Linked DNA regions of Homo sapiens. The protein of the gene in region 1 interacts with the protein of each later gene in a pairwise test. Each region holds a gene or a part of one and is shown in the gene's direction. Other genes may lie near its edges.

Region 1 (5,291 bases):
AGTTATGTGACTCATTAAAATTTAGGAAAAGTGTTGCTGAGCTGTGGAATCAGGCGTTTCTCCCTCAGTTCAACAACTAATACATAGACTGCTGATCAAGAATAAGGAACCAAATAAAGTCATGCACGTTCTGTTGACAGAGGAACTCTGTGGCTGTTGAATTTTACTGTAACTAGTTACTCTGTCTTCAGAGTCAACTTAATATACAAGTTATGTCATAATGGATGGAAAGACCTGTGTTGATGTATCCAGACTCTAGCAAATGAAGATAAAAAACCCGTTATGACTAATCCTTGGGAAGAGAAAGTCTGCAAAATGGCTCAAACCAGTTTACTGCAAGGGAAGCAGTTTTACTGTAGGGAGTGGGTTTTCCACAAGCTTCAGCATTGCCTCCAGGAGAAAAGTAACTGCTGCAATAGTGCTGTCAATGCACCATCACTTGTAATGAATTCTGGGAATAATGCTAGTGGTGTCTCTGGAAAGGGAGCTGCCTGGGGTGTGTTGTTGGTAGGAGGGCCTGGCAGTGGCAAGACGGCCCTATGTACTGAACTCTTATGGCCAAGTTCACCTGCAAGTTTGCAGAGAGGTTTACATCGCCAAGCTTTGGCCTTTCATTTCTGCAAAGCCCAGGACTCTGATACTTTGTGTGTTGGAGGGTTTATTAGAGGTCTAGTAGCCCAGATCTGCCGCAGTGGACTACTCCAAGGATATGAGGACAAGCTAAGGGATCCAGCAGTCCAAAGCCTCTTACAGCCTGGGGAGTGCGAGAGAAACCCAGCCGAAGCATTTAAAAGGTAACAATAAAAATGTCATGGTGTTCAGATTTCTATGCTGAAATTAAATTAATTTTTAGTTGTAGTTTTTTGTTTTAACTTTGTGGGTTACTTTTACTGGTGCTGTACATTTGGCCTTAATCTGAAGTTATGAGTATACCTGTTTACTTTGAATATCAAAGGAAGTAAAATTTAGGTTTTGGTATTGCACAGCATATGGATTAAAATGGATTAAAAGTGTATCTTAATTTTACTTAATAACATAATGTTACTTACATTGCCTATAAATGGTAAGGGAAATTTGTTCTTATGGTAGAGAAGCACATTTAGCTGTCTGGAAATAGGTTACATTTTCAGAGGGTGAACTGAACTTAGAGTAATTATCAGTATAGCATCTAGTATCTTTTTATTTTTTTCCTTATAGTAGTAGTATTTTTTTAAGTAAGAAAGGTTTTCTTTAAAGGAGATTATTGGCCACTGAGAATCTGAAGAAAATTTGCTGATGAGTTTTGGGATTTATTCTCCTATTAACTAACTAATTGAAAAACTGGTATTTAGAAGTATGTGAATTTATAAAATAGCGAACATTTGGGATCATCTTACTACTTTTACTTTTAGTGAGTGGTACAAAGAAAGTGTTTTTTCCTAACTTCAGCAAAGCTTTTTTTCCATGGTAAATGGATTGGTCCAGGAAGTGAGCAAGTTGCTTTCCAGAGTGGTTTCAGATTCAAATCTGTTCAAGAAAATATAATTCCTTGAAAACATTTTTTTTTGCATATCATGCCTCTGCTCATTGTAAAAGTAGCAGGCAAATTGTTAGTTTGTGCTTCACTTCTGCTTGAATTACCCATTTTGCCATAAGCTTTTTCTCTACAATAACATTCTTAGCGGGCAAAAGTTTGTTCTCCAAAGATTCTGGTATACTGTGCACTGGAGGTTTGTGTGTGTGTGTGTGTGTGGCTCTCTTCTGCTTGAGTGTGTTTCTAGGAGAGATTTGAATCACTCTAAAAAGAGTGATGTTTGTTTTTATGATATCCTCAAATCTAATGGGGTGAAATCTATACATTTTGAAAGTAATATTGAAAATATTTAATAGTAATTACAGTAAACAGTAAGTGTCAGTCATTATTCTAAGTGCTTTACAAATATTAGATCATTTAATCCTCATAATAATCCTGTGAGGTAGTTACTACTCCCATTTTATAGATGAGGAAACTAAGGTACAGAGAGGCTAAATAAATTGTTCAAGGTTACAGACTAGTAAATGGCAGGGCTGAGATTTTAAATGTGTGTGTGTGTATGTGTGTGTGTGTGTGTGTGTGTGTGTGTATGTGTTAGTAATCTTAGAAATTCTCTGGGGGACTTGATGGGAAGAGGAGGGGTTTAGAAGGTTATGTATGGCAAAGCTGGAGAACAGGAGTTGTGTCACAGTGTGGTTTGAGTGTGGTTTTCAGATTACCCATATAGTGATAGAGGGAGTGGTATTCTAGAATGAGAGTTAGGGATGGTACAGAATTCAAATATGGGAGGAATTTATTAAAGTCAGCCAAAGGGATGTATCTTTGAGAGGTGTGATATTCTTGTAGACTCTTTAATATGTAAATTTAGTCCAATAAAACTAAAGGCAAATCTATTATCTTTTGTTGTTAGCCATCAAAGTCAGCGTTAAAACTGTTGTATCATTCTTAAATTAATGAGGAAATCTGTTAGTTGATGCCTGTGGCATGTGAGATGCAAGGTTTGATGGAGAGTGTTCAATATGGAATCACTGTACAGAATAAATAATGTAGTCTTTAATATAAAACTATACCTTTTAATAGAATTAAAACTGTACATAAGCAACTCTTTTCTTCTTACTGCTTTTTCTGAAGATACTAGTGGCAGAGCAGAATTTTCATTTCTTTGTGATAAGTAATTTCATAAGCTATTTAGGTTTATTGACACCTACCAATAACTTTCAAAGAGCTTAGTCTGAGGTGAACTTAATCTGATGTAACCAAGGTATGTAATTTATAATTTATTGAAATTCATATGTAAATTTCTGATACCTGAATGTTGAATGTTTAAAAATCATGTCTGATTACTGTATTTTTGATATATTCTGATCCTAAGCATAGCTTTCTCTATGGTATCATAGATTTTCCTGAAAAATAATTCTTTTATTCAATTGTTTCTTTTATTTTTTCTTTTTCCTGTGTGATTCTCAGTTATTAGCTAATTGAAGAGGAAGAAGAAGCAATTAGAGCTGTGTGTAAAAACCATACCAGCCCTGCTTTTCTGATTGACAGAAGGAGCCAATCACTTTGCATTCCCAGTTTACACTTTAATAAAAGAGAAGGCTTTAGTCTTTCTACTTGGACCATTTTGGTGCTCTTCACTGATTTCTTACTGGACTTTTCAAAAACCTGAGTCACTTTCTTTCTTCATCGTTAAAGTAATTGATCATGATATTAATTAGGGAACTATGGTATTGAAACACTCTTTTTGATCATTCATAGAGACACATTTCCATTACAACTGTGAAGCTATAATACAGCTATATTCACTTGCAAACCTGAGAGCACAATTCAAAGTTAAAAAGATGTATTTTTGTTTGGTATGTGATATTACATTATCTAGGCTTCTACTTTTGGACAAATAATTCAAGATTTTATTGTAGGTTCTATTATTGATTGACAGATTTCTTAAATAAGTCCTTTAGAGAATTTTAATAGGAACGTATTTTATTTAGGCATGGATAGATATAATTCAACAGGTGGAAAATGGGGCTGAAAACCATTGTTTCCAAAGAGTTACAATATTTTGAGGGAAATGGAAATGGAAGTAGCTAATTATAACATGACAGGAGATTAAATATAAATGTAAGCAAACAGCAGGAAAATATTTATTTTTCGCTTTTGACAAAAACTAAATCCAAAACCAGTTTTTGCATTATTACTTTTTAACCTTTAAATTTCTGCTAATATTGATGGTTTCATATACAGACTTTTCCCAATTTATAATAGTTCAACTTAAGATTCTTTGACTTTAGGATGGTGAGAAAGCAATATGTATTTAGTAGAAACCTTACTTTGAGTACCCATACAACTGTTCTGTTTTTTACTTTCAATATAGTATTCAATAAATTACATGATATATTCAACACTTCATTATAAAATAAACTTTGTGTTAGATACTTTTGCTCAAGTGTAGACTAATGTAAGTATTCTGAGCATGCTTAAGGTAGGGTAGGCTAAGCGATGATGTTTGGTAGGTTGAGAGTTATCAGATGCATTTTTGACTTAAGATATTTTCAACATATAATGGATTTATCAGGGTGTAATCCTATCATAGGTTAAGGAGCATCCGTATTCATGTGTGAAACAATTTTAATAGTTATAGAAAGTTGATAATGAAAAAATCTCAGTTATTCACAGATTCACAAAGCTGGGGAAATTGCAGAGAAGTGATTTACTTGATGCTTTTTAAATCCACTTATCTTTTCTTCAGTTTGCTTCTTAGCTTTCTTTAATTTTTTTTGTGCCTAATGATAGTAGATAGAATACGTGATACATGAAATTATATGGCTAAATCGTAATTTGTTAATTACTAGTTCATAATAATTAAGGAAGAGTGAAAGGAACTTCATCTTAATCTAGTGAAACATTGCCACTTTCTTCCCTTCTGACATGGTATAGTATATTCTATAGTTTTTTAGATATAGTTGTCACGAAATTTCTTCTGACATTCATTTATTTGTATGACAAATAATGAGAGTGTTCTCCGTTTGAAGCATAGTTCATTTGCGTTATTTATTAAGAACCTTCTGTGTGTTAGGTAGAGTTCAGCTGGAGATAAATCAGGGAATAGAACAGACAGAATTCTGCCTTCATGGAACTCAAATTCTAACATTAATATTTATCTTATTCATATAGAGAGAAATAACCATCAGAGTAAATACTTGTTACAGTGTTCATGAAACACATGAACATTTAAACATTAATAGAATTTTGTGATCTGCTAAAGGGAATGATATGAAGACACATTGCTATCTTTTTTTCATTTTTATTTTTCGTATCTGGTTAAAGTACAATGCTATTGTTAATTTCTTTACAATATTTTATTTCCTCATTTCTGAAACTAAGTTGATGTTTATATTTTTACTTACTTTGAGAGCCAAAGGCTGATTTCTTTAATTCTGCCTCCCACTTTAGGCCTTTAGTGCAAAACTTTGTATATTTTACATTGACTGTGTCTTTTCTAGAGTTAGTGTTAGAGGTGGACTCCTAGTAGTCCTATAATTATAAAACAAATTCCAATTATTTTTGACAAAAAACTCAAGCAACTAAGTTAGTGAGGGGTGGAGGGTGGTAGCATTAGGTTTTGTGGCTGGTTTAGAAGATAGCTGTTTCAATCAACCAGAAACACCTTTCTGGACTTTGAACAGAAATCGTTTTGGAGATTTAAAAGGATATGGTGTTGGGAAATACAAATTTTTGTTCTTAGTGTATGTCATTACCTCACTTTTATTTCTTGTTA
Region 2 (5,291 bases), on another chromosome or scaffold:
AGCACCAGCGGATCCACACAGGCGAGAAGCCCTATGAGTGCGGGGAGTGTGGGCGTGCCTTCAACCAGCATGGCCACCTAATCCAGCACCAGAAAGTGCACAGAAAGTTGTGACCCATGGCTGACACAAGAATCCATTCTCACAGAAACTGCATGTGGAACCACAAGCAGCCTTCAGCCCAAGAGAAGTCTCTGTTAACTCTATAGGAAGCTTTTCTTTGGCGATTCAGTGTCACAAAATAACTCCAGAAAGAAGCACTTAGCGTGCTGTTCCTGTGGAAAAACTTCAGAGACTACCTGTTTTATTTTCCTCAACATCTTGAAGTTATGTTGGAGAGTAATCATACAATTGTAGAGAATTTTGGTAAAAAACAGCCATAATTCTTTAACATTAGTTTATTTGAACTAAGGGAATTTAAGGCATAAGAACCATTATCCCAATAAAATCTTACATTCCAAATAAAGTTCTTTTTCTAAGAACATTACATGCCCTTCCTAAATATCAATTAACCATACTAATTATTGCACTTAAAATTTGAAAGTCGGACTATTTTCAGTATTCTCTTAAAAGACTAAAGTATTGTATGGATAAAGTGATATAAAAAGATATTTTCATCAAGCATCATGTAAAATGGTTGGAAATCCTAAGTGTGTGGATTTCCATCCTAAGTGTGTGGAGTCCTGTTTTGTATGAAACAAGGAAAAAGCTTATATATTAGTGAGAAATTACATAAATTTAAAAAACTTTTTGTATGTGTGTGTGGAGATAGTCTTGCTCTGTTGCCCAAGCTGCAGTGCAGTGGCATGATCTTGGCTCACTGCAGTCTCCGCCCCCACCCCAGGTTCAAGCTTTTCTTGTGCCTCAGTCTCCCAAGTAACTAGGATTATAGATATGCGCCACCACACCTGGCTAATTTTTGTATTTTTAGTAGAGACGGAGTTTCACCGTGTTGGCCAGGCTGGTCTCGAACTCCTGGCCTCAAGTGATCCTCCCACCTTTGCTTCCGAAAGTGTTGGGATTACAGGCGTGAGGCACCATGCCTGGCCTAGAAAACCCTTTATCTGGAGCTTTTAACTTTATTCAAGATCAGAAAGGTTATGCTAACTTTTTAGTAAAAATTCAACTCAAAAATGGGTATTTTCCTCAAAACTTGCCCTTATGACCTGCAGATCCTGTGCCCCAGAAACCGTGAGATGTCTCAATTCCCATGCAGGCAAAGGAGGGGAGCTTCACACTCAGCAGACCTCATAGCTGTTACACCAAGTGGGTACCTCTTTACATCTTATGGTATTTCCCCCAAAACAATGCTGAAAATACTGTTCTTTGGTAGATATATTTAAAACATACATTTCTCAAATTCAGATAGCTCTTTTTTACTATCTCTAGTATTTCTATTCCTATATTTGAAGGGGTTTTTTTTTTCATTTTTTTACTCCTGGTTCAAGAGTCCAGTATCCATTGCCATATTACTATGATGAAGATGAATCTAGTTTATTCATAATTAAAAATTTGTATTCAGAATTATTTGTTCTGTTTTAAGCATACTTTTTTTTTTTTTTTTGAGACAAAGTCTTGCTCTTGTTCCCCAGGCTGAAGTGCAATGGCACAATCTCAGCTCACTGCAATCTCCACCTCCCAGGTTCAAGCAATTCTCCTGCCTCTGCCTCCCAAGTAGCTGGAATTACAGGCACCTGCTACCACGCCCGACTAATTTTCGTATTTTTAGTAGAGATGAGGTTTCACCATGTTGGCCAGGCTGGTCTCAAACTCCTGACCTCAGGTGATCCGCCCGCCTCGGCCTCCCAAAGTGCTGGGATTACAGGCGTGTGCCACCGCACCCGGCCAAGGATACAGTTCTTGAAACCGAATCAGAACCATTTCTAGTAGCAGCCAGCTGCAAACGAAACAAATGTATGAGGTTCAAGCCACTTGAAATTCTCAACATGTTAAGTGCCTGAGATAGAGAAGGGCTGTCTTCACCCCAGGCCCCCGCCCCCAACATCTGTCAGTTTGGTGGGGAGGAAATAGTCACCAGGATATTGATCCTTTTTGTTTGTTTTAAAGACGGTCTTGCTCTGTCACCAGGTTGGAGTGCAGTGGTGCCATCATGGCTCACCGCTGCCTCAAACTCCTGGGCTGAAGCAGTCCTCCCACCTCACCTTCCCAAAAGGTTAGGATTACAGGCATGAGCTGCTGTGCCCATCCAGGCATTGATCCTTAAGTCCACAGCAAAACACCACGATGTAGACAAAAGCTTGTTCCCCCTTCTATGTACAGACACTGACAACAGTGAATTATTAACTCCAGAGAGGAACTGGTAACTGATTGGTTAACTTGAGAAAGGAGCTGACATCACTGGTGTTTTACTTCAGAGCAACTGAAACCACTGAAGTGAAATTCCAGAGGAACTAATATTACTGAGGTGTTACTTCAGAGGGACTGAGATCACTGAAGTGAAACCTCAGATAGCTCAGATAACCAAGGTGTTAACCTTAGAGGTGTTGCCATTCTGTGAGGTGTTGTTTCAGATAGATAAAATAACTAAGGTGTTAGTTCAGAGAAGACAAGAGCTTAACTGTTTCTTTGGAGAAGAGCTGAGATCACTGAGGCGTCACTTCAGAAAGAAAGTGAGACAATTTTTGTTACTTCAGAGGATCTGAGTACACTGAGGTGTTTCATCAGAGAGGAGGTGAGATCACTGGGTGTTACTTCTGAAAGGAATTGACATCACTAGTGGGTACTGCAGAGTAGCTCTGACCACTGAGGTTTACTTCAGAGGAGCTGAAATAACGGAAATGGGATCACTAAGGTATTACTTTAGAGATTAGATCATTGAGGTAATTCTTCAGAGAAGCTGAGATCACAGAGGTGTTTCTTCAGAGAAGTTGAAATCACTAATGTGAAACTCTAGAAGAATGGAGGTCACTGAGTGCTATTTCATAAAGGAAGTGAAATCACTATATTGTACCATCGGAAAGATGAGAATGCTGAGATGTTACTTAGGAGCTGAGATCACTGAGGTTCTGCTTCAGAGAAAAGCTGATACCAATGAGATGTTACTTAAGGGAGGAGCTGAGGTTACTGAGGTATTATTCAGGACCAAGATGGTGTCCCTCAGGTGTTAGAAGCTGAGATCACAGAGATGTTACTTAAGAGAGGCTGAGACTGCTGATGTGATTCTTCAGAAAGGAAATGAGATCACTAAGCTGTTAACTTTAGAAAGGAGATGAAATAACTGAGTTGTTCACTGGAGTTGAGATCACACAGGTGTTAACTTCAGAGGTGGCTGAAATCACTAAGGTGATTCTTCAGAGAAAGGTTGAGATCACTAGGGGTGATGCTTTAGAAAGAGGTTACTTTAGGGAAAAGCTATGATCACTGAGAAGTTACTTCAGAATGGAGCTGAGATCACTGAGGTAACAGTCCAAAGAGGAACTGAGATTACTGAGGTGTTACTTCAGAGCCAAGAGATCACCCAGGTACCTAGATGAGATCACTGAGATGAAAGTCCAGAAACCTGAGGTCACCTCAATATTAATTGAGAGAAAATGAGAACACTGTGGTGCTATCTTAAATCTTCTATGAAAGGAAGCTGCCAACCTGTGTTAGCTGAGTCCACAGCTGGCATGTGACTCAGTGGCAGCTGCTCAGTGCCCACTACTATTCAGGCCCCAATTTCTAATCATTAAAGACAAAGTCATATTCCAATTAAGATGAGAATAATTAAATTCAATATACAGGAACATTTGTTTAGAAAGACTGTGTATCACAGGACAACGTAAGTTACACAGTACAAGTTATTCTGGATTCCAATAACCTAGGGTTTTCAGGGAAATCCTTCCAAAAAGTATAGTTTTTTTCCTGCATTCTTAAAATGAGCTTAATATCATTCTGCCTGTTCTTGCTATGTCAGGCTGCCATTGATCCACTGGTGAGAATGCAGGCTCAGGTGTCCACGGAGCCAGGAAGTGGGCTTCAATGCCCTTCTTTCTGAGGAGGATTCCCAGGCTACATTTTCTTGCCACTCACCTCCTCCTCTCCAAGGAGAAAGAGGTGGCACATGACCTACTGGAACATGTGGGCTATCTACCTTTTTGGGATATAACATCAAAGGCCAGGGCCCTGAATTTTCATGCTGATAACAGTCTTCTCAACCATTATCTTCTGCCTGATTTGTCAGCAGCATTCCACCTTTATTTTGGATTTGTTTTATTCAGAAGTCTGTATATTTTAGGTATTTAAATACTTCTCTTTGGCTGGGTGCAATGGCTCACACCTGTAATCCCAGCACTTTGGGAGGCTGAAGTGGGTGGATCGCTTGAGCCCAGGACTTTGAGACCAGCATGGCGAAAACCCGTCTCTACAAAAAAAAAATTAGCTGGGTGTTGTGGCTTGCGCCTGTAGTCCCAGATACGTGGGAGGCTAAGGTGGGAGGATTGATTGGGAGTTCAAGACTAGTGTGCTGTGATCATACTATCTAGCCTGGACAACAGAGAGAGACCTTGTCACAAAAAATACGTATATATTTCTTTTAAAATTGTTTCTTCTAACAGCTATTAAGAATTTGAAACTTGGTTCTCTTCAAATTTTCTATTATTTTGGAAAACATTTTAGTCTGCCTGGAATTTCTGTGTATAATCTGACGCTTTCCAATAAAAAAGTAATGACTGGAACAAGTATTTGCAGTGAAGAAAGATCAGTAACTTTGGCATAAAGATCTCCTACAAATCAGTGACCATAGGACATGAACAGACCACTCCAAATAAGAGAATATACAACCATGGAAGCTTGGAAAAGGCTCAAGTGTACCAATCCCAAAACAAATAACAACATGCTACCCACTAATCAGTTAGTAAAGATTATCCTGTAATGACCAGGTATGAGGAGATGTGTGCTTTCATGCATTGCTGATGATGTTATCAATTAATACAATCCTTTTTCCCTGGAATTTCTCTGGGCCATAAAGTGGCTTCTGCTGTGGCTATCCCATGTCCGGTGTGAGGAGACAGTGGTATGACTCATCCCTTTGTGTCCGGAATTGGTGGGTTCTTGGTCTCACTGACGTCAAGAATGAAGCTGCGGACCCTCGTGGTGAGTGTTACAGTTCTTAAAGGCAGTGTGTCTGGAGTTTGTTCGTTCTGATGTTCGGACGTGTTCAGAGTTTCTTCCTTCTGGTGGGTTCGTGGTCTCACTGGCTCAGGAGTGAAGCTGCAGACCTTCGCGGTCAGTGTTACAGCTCTTAAGGTGGTGCGTCTGGAGTTGTTCATTCCTCCCGGTGGGTTCATGGTCTC
Region 3 (5,291 bases), on another chromosome or scaffold:
CCAAAATCCAAAGGATAAGGAGAAAGTGGGGGAGGAACTTTCTAAGCAAAGAGAGTGGCATGTTAAGAGATAAAACTGGCCGGGCATGGTGGCCCATGCCTATGGTCCTAGCACTTTGGGAGGCACAAGGCGAGTGGATCACCTGAGGTCAGGAGTTCGAGACCAGCCCCGCCAACATGGCAAAACCCCGTCTCTACTAAAAATACAAAAATTAGCCAGGTGTGGTGGCATGTGCCTGTAATCCTAGCTACTTGGGAGGCTGAGGCAAGAGAATCGCTTGAACCCAGGAGGCAGAAGTTGCAGTGAGCCGAGATCATGCCAGTGCACTCTAGCCTGGGTGACAGAGCCAGACTTCGTCTCAAAAAATAACCCCCATGCAGAGGAGAGGAGCCTGTTTTTAGTCATATTCTGACTAGAAAACACACCTGAAACAAGCTTCTTTCCCCACTCCCGCTCTCATCCAAGGCATCCTGGCCTATGTAATGGGTTGTTCTGCCTGCCAGCAGCAGGAACAGCAGCAGGCACCTTTAGAAGAACCCTTGAAAGAAGTGTGGGCAGTGAAGCACTCCCCCAGCTACTTTGAACAAATAAAATTTAATTAAAAATACGGACAGCCTTCAGCCACTGCTGCCAAACTTGGAAGGACATCAGTTGTTCTCTTTGACCCTTGACAAAATGGGAACTTTACAAAGGGGGAAAAATTACTTTTTGTGGCTGGGCACAGTGGCTTACTCCTATAATCCCAGCACTTTGGGAGGCAGAGGCGGGAAGATCACTTAAAGCCAGCAGTTTGAGACCAGCCTGGGGAACAAAGCGAGACCCTGTATCTACAAAAAAGTTTAAAAATTAGCCAGGCATGGCATGTGCCTATAGTCAGAGCTAGTCAGGGGGCTGAGGTGGGAGGATCACTTGAGCCCAGAGGTTGAGGGTGCAGTGAGCATGATCATTATACTGCACTCCAGCCTGGGTGACAGAACAAGACCCTGTCTCAAAAAAAAAAAAAAAAATCCTTTTTTTATCAAGGCCAATATAGCATAGATGAAAATATGTGGGAGAACTGGAAGCAACCAGATGCCCAGTAGTTGAAATGTATAACTAAACCATAGTATAATCACACAATGAAATACTGTATAACAATGAAAATGAACCAACTACAGTTACATACAACATTGATAAATTTCATATAATGCTACACAAAAATGCCAGATATGAAATAATACATACTACATGATTCCATTTATATTAAGTTTTTTAAAAACTCTAAACTGTAGGCTGGGTAAGGTGGTTCACATCTGTAATCCCAGCATTTGGGAGGCCGAGGCAGGCAGATCACTTGAGGCCAGGAGTTTGAGACCAGCCTGGCCAACATAGCGAAATCCCATCTCTACTAAAAATATAAAAAATTAGCTGGTCATGGTGGCACACACGTGTAATCCCAGCTACTCAGGAGGCTGAGGCAGGTGAATCACTTGAACCCAGGAGGCAAAGGTTGCAGTGAGCCAAGTTTGCACCACTGAACTTCAGCTTGGGTGACCGAGCAGACTCTGTCTCAAAAAAAAAAAAACAAAAAAAAAACTATAGTGTTTATGACTCCAAGTTGAAAGCAAGGAAATTACTACCCCATAAGTCAGGATAGTAGTTACCATTGTGGAAGAAGAAAGGTGTAACGACTGGGTAGAGGATATATGGAGGCTTCTGGTATGCTGGTAATGTTCTCTTTCTTAATCTGTATGGTGGTTATACAAATGTATGTTATGTGATAAAACTATTAAAGTTCCATATGGTATAATTGAAGCTTGGCATCACACTATTATCACTTCTCTCCCGCTCCGTCCTCAAGACTGAGTCTTGTACCAACTGAGGTACCAAATGTTTCCTCCTTGGTTTGCTGTGTTGACACTTTGTGGTAACTTACGACTAAGGTCAGTTGTCTTCCGCTTAAAAAAAGGGAATATTTACAAAGGAAATATTTGTTTTGATTTAGTAGTTTTTAAAGTTCATCTGCTTAGTTTGTCTACTGTTTTTCTTCAAGAGACTGTGACCCCAAGAGAAAAGTTAAATTGACAACTAAGTGTCATTCATTCAACACATATCTTTTGAGCACCTGCCCTGTGGCTGATTCATGAAGCTGTACACATTTAAGATTTCTTAGCATCAAAAAGTTTCCTTACATAACTACAAATTAAATTTTTTTATTTTTTCTTACCTTGACACTGATATAACTGCAAATTAACAGTAAATCTCTGCCTACCATCCTGAAAGAATATTCACGATATGTGGTGTTTTTCTTATTCTAGCCCAGTTTTTTCTGTGAATTCAGATGGATACGGATAAGTTGTGAGACCTTGGGGAATCATTCTTCTCTGGGCCTGCTTCCTCTTCTGTTGTCTAGTCTAACATCCCCTTCCACCCTAGGTTTCTATGGCTATTCTTTTTCTACTTATTAGAAACTTGCGAATCATGCTGGTTACAGCAATTTATTATAAGCTAAGTAATGTAAAATATGTCTAAAGTTGAAGTACTTTAGGCTTATTTCCTTGTCTTTGGTGAAATACATCTCAGGATGCTTAATTTTTAAATTTTATCTTTAATTCTAGGCTATACCCCAGCTTTGGCCTGTGCTCCCAATAAGGATGTGGCTGATTGCCTGGCTCTCATTTTGGCCACCATGATGCCTGTCTCATCAAGTAGTCCTTTATCATCCTTAACATTCAATGCCATTAACCGTTATACCAACACCTCAAAAACAGTCAGCTTTGAAGCTTTGCCCATCATGAGGAATGAACCTAGCTCCTATTGCAGTTTCAATAACATTGGAGGGGAACAGGAGTACTTATACACTGACGTGGATGAGCTCAACGACTCCGATTCTGAGACCTACTGAGAGGCTGAGGAGGAGGGAGTTCTCACAGTAAAGCTTCAAACTGTGCTTTTTCAGGAAAAAGGCACTTTGATATTCACGTAGAAATTCAACCTAAGAGGAAAGATCCCACAGTGAGCCAATGTTAAGAGATCTGATGGCATTAGGAGGAAGAGTTTTAAAGGCAAGTTTTACAAAAGGAACTTCTAGAATCTTGAAATAGACCTGACTGAGGAAAACACATTGATGTCAGAATTCTTTGTGGAATTGTTTAATTTGGTTTTGCAGTGCCAGGAACAATTGGGGACACTGTGCACTCTAACCTGCTTACACAAGCAACACTATTGTAACAGAAGAAATAAAGACACTAGATTTAAATTTTATCAATAAAATTACAACTAAATTTAAAGGCAATAAAAGTTTGGTACAGTAGGCATTATGTGCACAGCAAATTGCAAAAGGACCAAATAACTGAAAGGTTTTTTTAATAAAATGCCATTTTGTGGAAACTGGAGTAGATTAAATGAAACATTACCTAAACCAAACTGCAATATTTCTGGAAATGAAGCTGAGATTTGGTTTTAAATGTTGAGTTTTTTTGGGTTTTGTTTTTTTTTTAAGAAAACATCTGAAAGCCTTCCAATGCTGTATTAAACCATGAGAGAAAGCAGATGTATTTTTACATTTTTTTCTTTTACAGAACTATTTCAAATTTCCAATTTTTATACTATTAGAATTAAAAACCAGCTGACTGGGTGCAATACGGGTGAAAATACTTGTGACATAGACATTGAGATGGATTGGGGTCAGGCTGTTGCCCTGTTTTGAATGGTTTGGGTTTAAAATAGTACTATTTTTGTTTGAAAATGTAAAGAATTTCCTAGAAAAAAATTCATGAAATCAAAAAGTAGACTATTTCACCCTATTGCAGCTAAGTGGTCCTGGGGCATGGAGTCTTCAACCTCTCTATGAATGGCACACCTTAGTCACTTATGTTACTTTTGTGTCCCCACCATGGGTTGGGGGATTTTTTGTTTATTCTGATCTATGAGTTTTGAAAAAGTGAATAATCAAAAGGAAAATAATTCCTTGTTGTTCATAAATTAAGCATCACTAAAGTCTCTTGAAAGGCATTTCTGTATTGGGCAAGATTTAAAATACTAAAGCCTTAGGTCCTATTCATATTTAAAGTAGCATGTTTGTAACCTGTTACTATTTGGAGAGAGAAGCAGTTGCCTGCCAAATTGAAGACTACCTTTCAAATAGCAAAAGAGAGAGAGAAGGCTGATATTTCGGCTTTTAAATAAAGATTTGTGTGGTTCTGCTTTTACTGTAACTGTCACTTTCCCAGTGAAAATGATTTCATATACATTGAGGGTCTTACAGGTATGGGTAAAGTTCTATAAATTGCAACAAAATGATACCCAATTTCATTTTATCCTTTTTGTATTGTGAAACTGGAAACTTTATGACATTGTAAATTATCAGCTGGTTTTTCTGAATATAAAGTGTGAAAACACAGAACAGTATTTTGATCTATTTGATAATTTTGTGGGTTTTTTGAAGAATTAATGAGCATGTACATAGAAATAGTGACTGCTTGAATACTGTATTTACTTGCACTCTTTCAGTACATCAAGATTCCTGTATATTTTAGAGTATAATAAAACACAGATGTGAGTTGTATTTAATGAATAATGTATTTGTATCTGTGCATATTATCTACAAATCTATAAAGTTTCTAGGGCATTGACTACTAGATTTTAAGCATTTTTTCTAAAATATTTACAGAAATTATAAATCTAATCCCCCATCTTTTCTTTATAATATAAAGAAGTCATAATGAACCCTTCCTAATTATTAGTAGTAGGAAGGTGAATATGCATTTTAATGACAGTGGACTACATTTTCTATTGTACCTTTTGAAAAAAAAAAAAATCAAGCAGATTCTAAAAGTATACATATGTGTGCTTTCTCTTTCCTTTTAGGAATTCTCTTCTGAATTCCCTGAGGGAATTTTCTAGAATCTCAGAATTGAAAGAGACCTGAGGTTCATCCAGTCTCTAACCTCTTAACAAATGCAGGAGTCCCTTCTACAAGGGTGATCTTTCCACCTTGAACACTTCCAAGTGACTCTACCTCACCAAGCAGTCCATTCAGTTGTTGAGCAGCTCTAACTGTTAGAAAGGTCTTCCTTAGATGGAGTTGAAGCCTCCCTCCCGGTAACTTCTGTCTTTGGGCCTGGGTCTGTCCTCCAAGAGAACCCTGAGAATGTTGGAAGGATGAATCTCGCACATTCTGCCATGTCTTCTCTTTTACAGGCTGTTTGACTTCTCTGCTGAAGTGATTTCCAGAAGGACTCATTTGACACACTATTAGATTTACCACATCTAATGAAATCCAAGGTGTAGCTATAAAGTGACAAGCTGTT
Region 4 (5,291 bases), about 110 Mb from region 1:
CTTGGGCAGTATGGCCATTTTCACGATATTGATTCCTCCTACCCATGAGCATGGAATGTTCTTCCATTTGTTTGTATACTCTTTTATTTCATTGAGCAGTGGTTTGTAGTTCTCCTTGAAGAGGTCCTTCACATCCCTTGTAAGTATTTTATTTTCTTTGAGGCAATTGTGAATGGGAGTTCACTCATGATTTGGCTCTCTGTTTGTCTGTTATTGGTGTATAAGAATGCTAGTGATTTTTGCACATTGATTTTGTATCCTGAGACTTTGCTGAAGTTGCCTATCAGCTTAAGGAGATTTTGGGCTGAGATGATGGGGTTTTCTAGATATTTGACCTGAAGAAGTTCTATTTTAAGGTGATTTCTACAGAAACTAATTTCATCATATTCTTATTTATTTTTTATTATTCATCTATCAAAGCCTTGGGTGTCTTACAATTCCTCAAATGTGCTAATCCTCTGAAAATATTAAGATTTAATGAAAAATAATAGAAATTATTTTGGAATACCTTCCTAGCCAAATTTCAAATCCTCAGAGTTTTTCACGGCACTGATGCAAAGAAATTACTCAGTAATTATCTGTGGAACTATTCTTGCATAGCGGTTTATACTTTACAGAGTGCTTTCACTTTCATCATCTTACTTGGTCTTCAAAATAATCCTATGAGCAAAGAAGGATGAGCACTCATAGCCTCATCTTTCAGATTAGAGAAGCTGAGACTCAAGTTGTACAATTCACTGTATAATTCAGCATACCTGGGTTGAAAGATTTGTCTCCCATCTTGCTAGATAAGTGATCCTGAATAAAAGAAGAGAAAAAGAAATAGTTAATTATGCAAGGGGAAGTTTAATTCAGGAGTTAGGTTCTAAATGTACTCGAAGTTACAGATGAAATGATGATCTCATCTGGATCCACACTGTGCATTTGTTCACTGGACAAGCTTGGCTCAGAAGAAGTCTCTTGCACAGAATGACAGGATTGTTCAATGCTGAAAAATCTAGGTCATTTGGATTGTTGCTGTATAACGGAAACTAAATTAAACAAAATGCCCTACATACGGTTCTGGTAAGCAGTAAATGGTATTATTATTATTATTATTATTATTGCTATTTTTATTAGTCCATTTTCACACTGCTGTAAAGCACTTCTCTGAGACTGAGTAGTTTATAACGGAAAGAGGTTTAATTGACTCACAGTTCCACATGGCTGGGGAAGCCTCATGAAACATACAATCATGGCAGAAGGGGAAGCAGCCACCTTCTCCACAAGACAGCAGGAGAGAGAAGAGTGAAGAAGAGCATGGAAAACTGCCTTATAAAACCATCAGATCTTGTGAGAACTCACCCACTATCACAAGAACATCATGGGGGAAACCACCCCCATGATCCAATCACCTCCTCCCTCCCTCAGCACCTGGGGATTACAAATCGAGATGAGATTTAGGTGGGGACAGACAGCTAAACCATATTACTACTACTCTAAGTTGTATTACTCTTTTCCAGTCTTGTTTAGACTACCTGGGCTTTTGTGTTTCTCCTTTGGATTTTAAATTTCCCTCACAAATTTTTCAGGCTCTCCTGATCATAAAACAGCTCCTCAGAAAATCACCAGCATACATCAGGTGCTTAATAAATGAATGTTGAAAAAAATTACAGTGTTTTTGCCATTAGCCTTTAGACGTCCATGGGAATGGTGGGGTTTACTGGATCTATCTTCACCCTTATCTTCACCGCAGGGCCAACCTGTAAATGGTGGTAAATATATAGCAATCCCTAAATCTTAGTTTATTTTCTTATACTTTTTTTCCTCTAAAATTTGCCTTCAGTACCATCTCAATGCATTAATCAAGCAATGGAGAAACAATCACAGTTGGGTAAGTTCTGATTTAATCCAGGCCTAGAAGTGCCTGCCTCTAATCAATGTGGTTCTGCCATCATTTATGGAAGCCAAAAAAAAAAAAAATAGGGGCGAGACAGAGGTAAACTTAAAAATAATAAAATAAAATATCTGTTAGGATTTTGGCAAACTTGGAGACTATTTTTCTACAATCTCACTTTACGTGAACAGTAAAAATCACTTTAATAATAAGAGCAGAGAGAAGGAAGAGCCAAAGAAAAAAGAAGGAGGAGAAGGAAGAAAAATGAAGGATAGAGGAAGGAAAGGAACATGAGAAAGCTAAATGAACAGGAAAAAGGATAAAAAGTCTATTCACCACAAAGTGGAATAAGAGGAGAGAGAAAGAATCTTACCACTAAAGGAAGGAAACCCTTTCTGCAGAATCAGGCAGCTGAAGAGAAAAAAGGAAATGGTTTTTAAAAACAAAACTCAACAGGAATAATAAATTCAGAAACTATAGATTGCATCAGTTCATTAAGAGTGTTTTCAAAATCATTTAAAATTAAAATGAATGCACAGTCACATTGCCTTGAGATACTCAAGGGAAGTTACTCATTACCAGGACAGTTGCAAAATTTTATAAAAATGTGCCATACATAATAGCAGAAAAACTAGGAAAGCACTCTCCCTTACCCCTCAAAAAAAAAAAAAAAGAAATCTATAATAACAATGCATTTGACTTCAAAGGCCTCCACTCAATGGAAATCCAATAAAATTAAATGTTATATTTAATTAAATTGAGCTGATTGATCTGACTGGGGTATAGAATTAGAAATCCAATCAGCATATATTTTCCTCTAAGTATGAGCATCTCTAAAATGTAACTTTCTCATTTTTGATATGAAAATTAAAGAAAATACATATAACTCTGAATTGGAACCAAATTAATATCATCTGTATCTGAGAAATCTTGATTTCGACATGTTTACTCAAAGCTCCTATGTGTGTGCAAACACACACACACATAGACACACACACACACACACACACACACACACACTCTTCTGGCTCTCTTCTCCAAATATACACACATGCTCCCTTTCTCAATTCCAAAAATCATTCACCATTTTGGATATGTGTGATGTGATTGTGCAGAAAAAGTCAGATGTGTATTGTGTGGGTTTTATATTCTTTTCCTTTTTTCCTGTTTTAATGATAAAAGAAAGCCTTAAGCCTTAATATAGACCTTATTCTTGAGCCTTGACCCAGTTTTAATTGCACAACTACCTCCTACCTTCTCGATTCATTCAAAGCTTTTCTTTAGCCGTTCACAGTTTGCTTTTGGTCATTTCCTATATCTAGAAGGTATCTTGTAGATATTATTAGAATGACATTTCCTAAGCTTTTAAATAAATAGAGGCCAGTATTTTCATAAGCATTATCTTCTAGGAATAAATAACTAATGTTTGGGAACAAAACAATTTCTTTACCCTAAAAGCATTTTTTTCTTCATGAAATATTAATTTTGGATCAGGTGAAATGCAGCAGCAATATTTATGATAAATGTCTCTTTGCAAGCTCAGTTTGGTAGTACTGGTGAATTCCCAGTGGAGAACAAGAGTTCTCAAGGGTAACAAGGAAATGCGATTGTTGCATTACATATTTCTAATTGTTTAAACTGCTTGTGATACCATAAGGATATTAATTATTTTTGAATTAAGACACGTGAAAATCCAGCCTATTTATAAAACAAGTCTCTGCTTCTTAAAACATTCACTCAGACCCCAGGTGGGTTCTGAGCTCAGAAGCAGGCATCCTGGTTTTAGTGCCCAAATCGAATGTATGTTCTTTGGAAATCTTATAGATACTTTCATCTGCAGAACCCTGTTTTCTTTATTTTAGTTTTCTAAAATATAGGTGTGATTCTTTAACCCTCAAATCCATTATCTTTTATTTCATGCTTTAAGTTCTGGGATACATGTGCAGAACCTGCAGGTTTGTTACGTAGGTAAACATGTGCCATGGTGGTTTGCTGCATCCATCCAACCCATCATCTAGGTTTTAAGCCCCACATGCTTTGTCCTAATTAGGTATTTGTCCTAATGCTCTCCCTCCCCTTGCCCCAAACCCCCCAACAGGCCCCAGTGTGTGATGTTCCCCTCCCTGTGTCCATGTATTCTCATGAACATGAACACGGATGAAGCTGGAGGCCATCATTCTTAGCAAACTGACACAGGAACAGAAAACCAAACACCACATGTTCTTACTCATAAATGGGGGTTGAACAATGAAATCAAATCCGTTATCTTTACAAAGCATTTTCAAACCACAAATTACTTAATGAGCTAATCAAATATAATCATTGAGACCATCCGCCCCAAAGCTGTGGGGTTGTTTGGTCCAAATAGATGGTTGAGGCAGGGGTCTCTCCACTCAGGATGTGAACCACCCTGTGCACCTCTCTTTGACATGGTCCCCTTTATACCTGGAGGAGAGTACAGTGAGCCCCGTAGGGAGACAACACACACTATTTCTCAAACTGGGGTTCATTTTGGATCCCCAAAGAGTTCCAGGTCAGGGTTAATAAATTATATGGGAACTGTATTAATGAAATGAAAGCACAGAGTTCCAACCCAAAGTAAATTCATTATGAGCATATTCTGGCCCTTTTGCCTAGGCTTTAAGCCCTGGTATACACTCAGGCAATTTTATTGCCCATGTTGGCATTTGCAATTAGATTTGCATTGGCGTCTAGCACTCAGTACAGTGGTGTTTTTTCTTGTTGGAGAAATAAGCTGGCATCATGAAAACAGGCAGCCTCTCCTTGTGGACTCCTGGAGGACCCTGGGCTCCTTTGTACCTCCACACTGCTCCACCCAACACGTCTCCTTCTGCCTGGTCCCTCCCTGACAGTGAGTCCCTGAAAGTAGGGTGTGGTCTCCTCTTGATACCTTCAGAGCTTCCTTCAGCTTCCCCACAGCAGAGTCGACTCTGGACCTATTAATATCACCCATGCCAAGTGCCCTGCTGTGACTCCGGGTTCCACAAGCAAAACTGACAGATGACACCTCAGTGTCATTCCTTTGACAGAGAGAGCTATGCATGGGCTTTATTTCTGTGGCTAACCAGGAAGAGAAACTGAAATAATTGCTACAGAAAGTGAATGCACACACACCATGAGTTGTGCTCCATTTCTGGGGCATTCCAGCTTCTCAAGGTCTCCGAATCAAGGCAAGAAGATGTTGCATACTCTTTGATCTGGGTCAGATCTTGAAGTAAGACCTGTTGGAGAAAGACCTGCAAGGCTGACGCTCCACAGCCTACAAGTCCTGCCTCCCCTTCCATTATCATAGTCCATGTGGGAGTTGGGGTTACTTCTTTTTTTATTAACATTAGTTATTTCTCCTAATACTATCACTCCCCCAGACCCCCCACCCCCTGACAGGCCCCAGTGT

Evidence for each region.
Region 2: the proteins of ANKRD50 (region 1) and ZNF250 interact in binary tests that used the Homo sapiens proteins (3 or more experiments, as listed by UniProt).
Region 3: the proteins of ANKRD50 (region 1) and ANKRD28 interact in a two-hybrid assay, tested with the Homo sapiens proteins (one large-scale study listed by BioGRID and IntAct).
Region 4: the proteins of ANKRD50 (region 1) and CLNK interact in a two-hybrid assay, tested with the Homo sapiens proteins (one large-scale study listed by BioGRID and IntAct).

What each region holds. Positions count from the first base shown.
Region 1 is NC_000004.12:124,705,503-124,710,793, reverse strand, and holds part of ANKRD50 (ankyrin repeat domain-containing protein 50), read left to right. Parts: 5' UTR 1-282; coding exon 283-794; intron 795-5,291.
Region 2 is NC_000008.11:144,876,337-144,881,627, reverse strand, and holds the end of ZNF250 (zinc finger protein 250), read left to right. Parts: coding exon 1-113; 3' UTR 114-4,673; downstream 4,674-5,291. UniProt on the Homo sapiens protein: May be involved in transcriptional regulation.
Region 3 is NC_000003.12:15,667,863-15,673,153, reverse strand, and holds part of ANKRD28 (serine/threonine-protein phosphatase 6 regulatory ankyrin repeat subunit A), read left to right. Parts: coding exon of another isoform or gene 1-73; exon of another isoform or gene 74-1,520; coding exon of another isoform or gene 1,521-1,544; exon of another isoform or gene 1,545-1,794; intron 1,795-2,597; coding exon 2,598-2,884; 3' UTR 2,885-4,912; coding exon of another isoform or gene 4,913-5,125; 3' UTR 5,126-5,291. UniProt on the Homo sapiens protein: Regulatory subunit of protein phosphatase 6 (PP6) that may be involved in the recognition of phosphoprotein substrates. Involved in the PP6-mediated dephosphorylation of NFKBIE opposing its degradation in response to TNF-alpha.
Region 4 is NC_000004.12:10,673,652-10,678,942, reverse strand, and holds part of CLNK (cytokine-dependent hematopoietic cell linker), read left to right. Parts: intron 1-5,291. UniProt on the Homo sapiens protein: An adapter protein which plays a role in the regulation of immunoreceptor signaling, including PLC-gamma-mediated B-cell antigen receptor (BCR) signaling and FC-epsilon R1-mediated mast cell degranulation.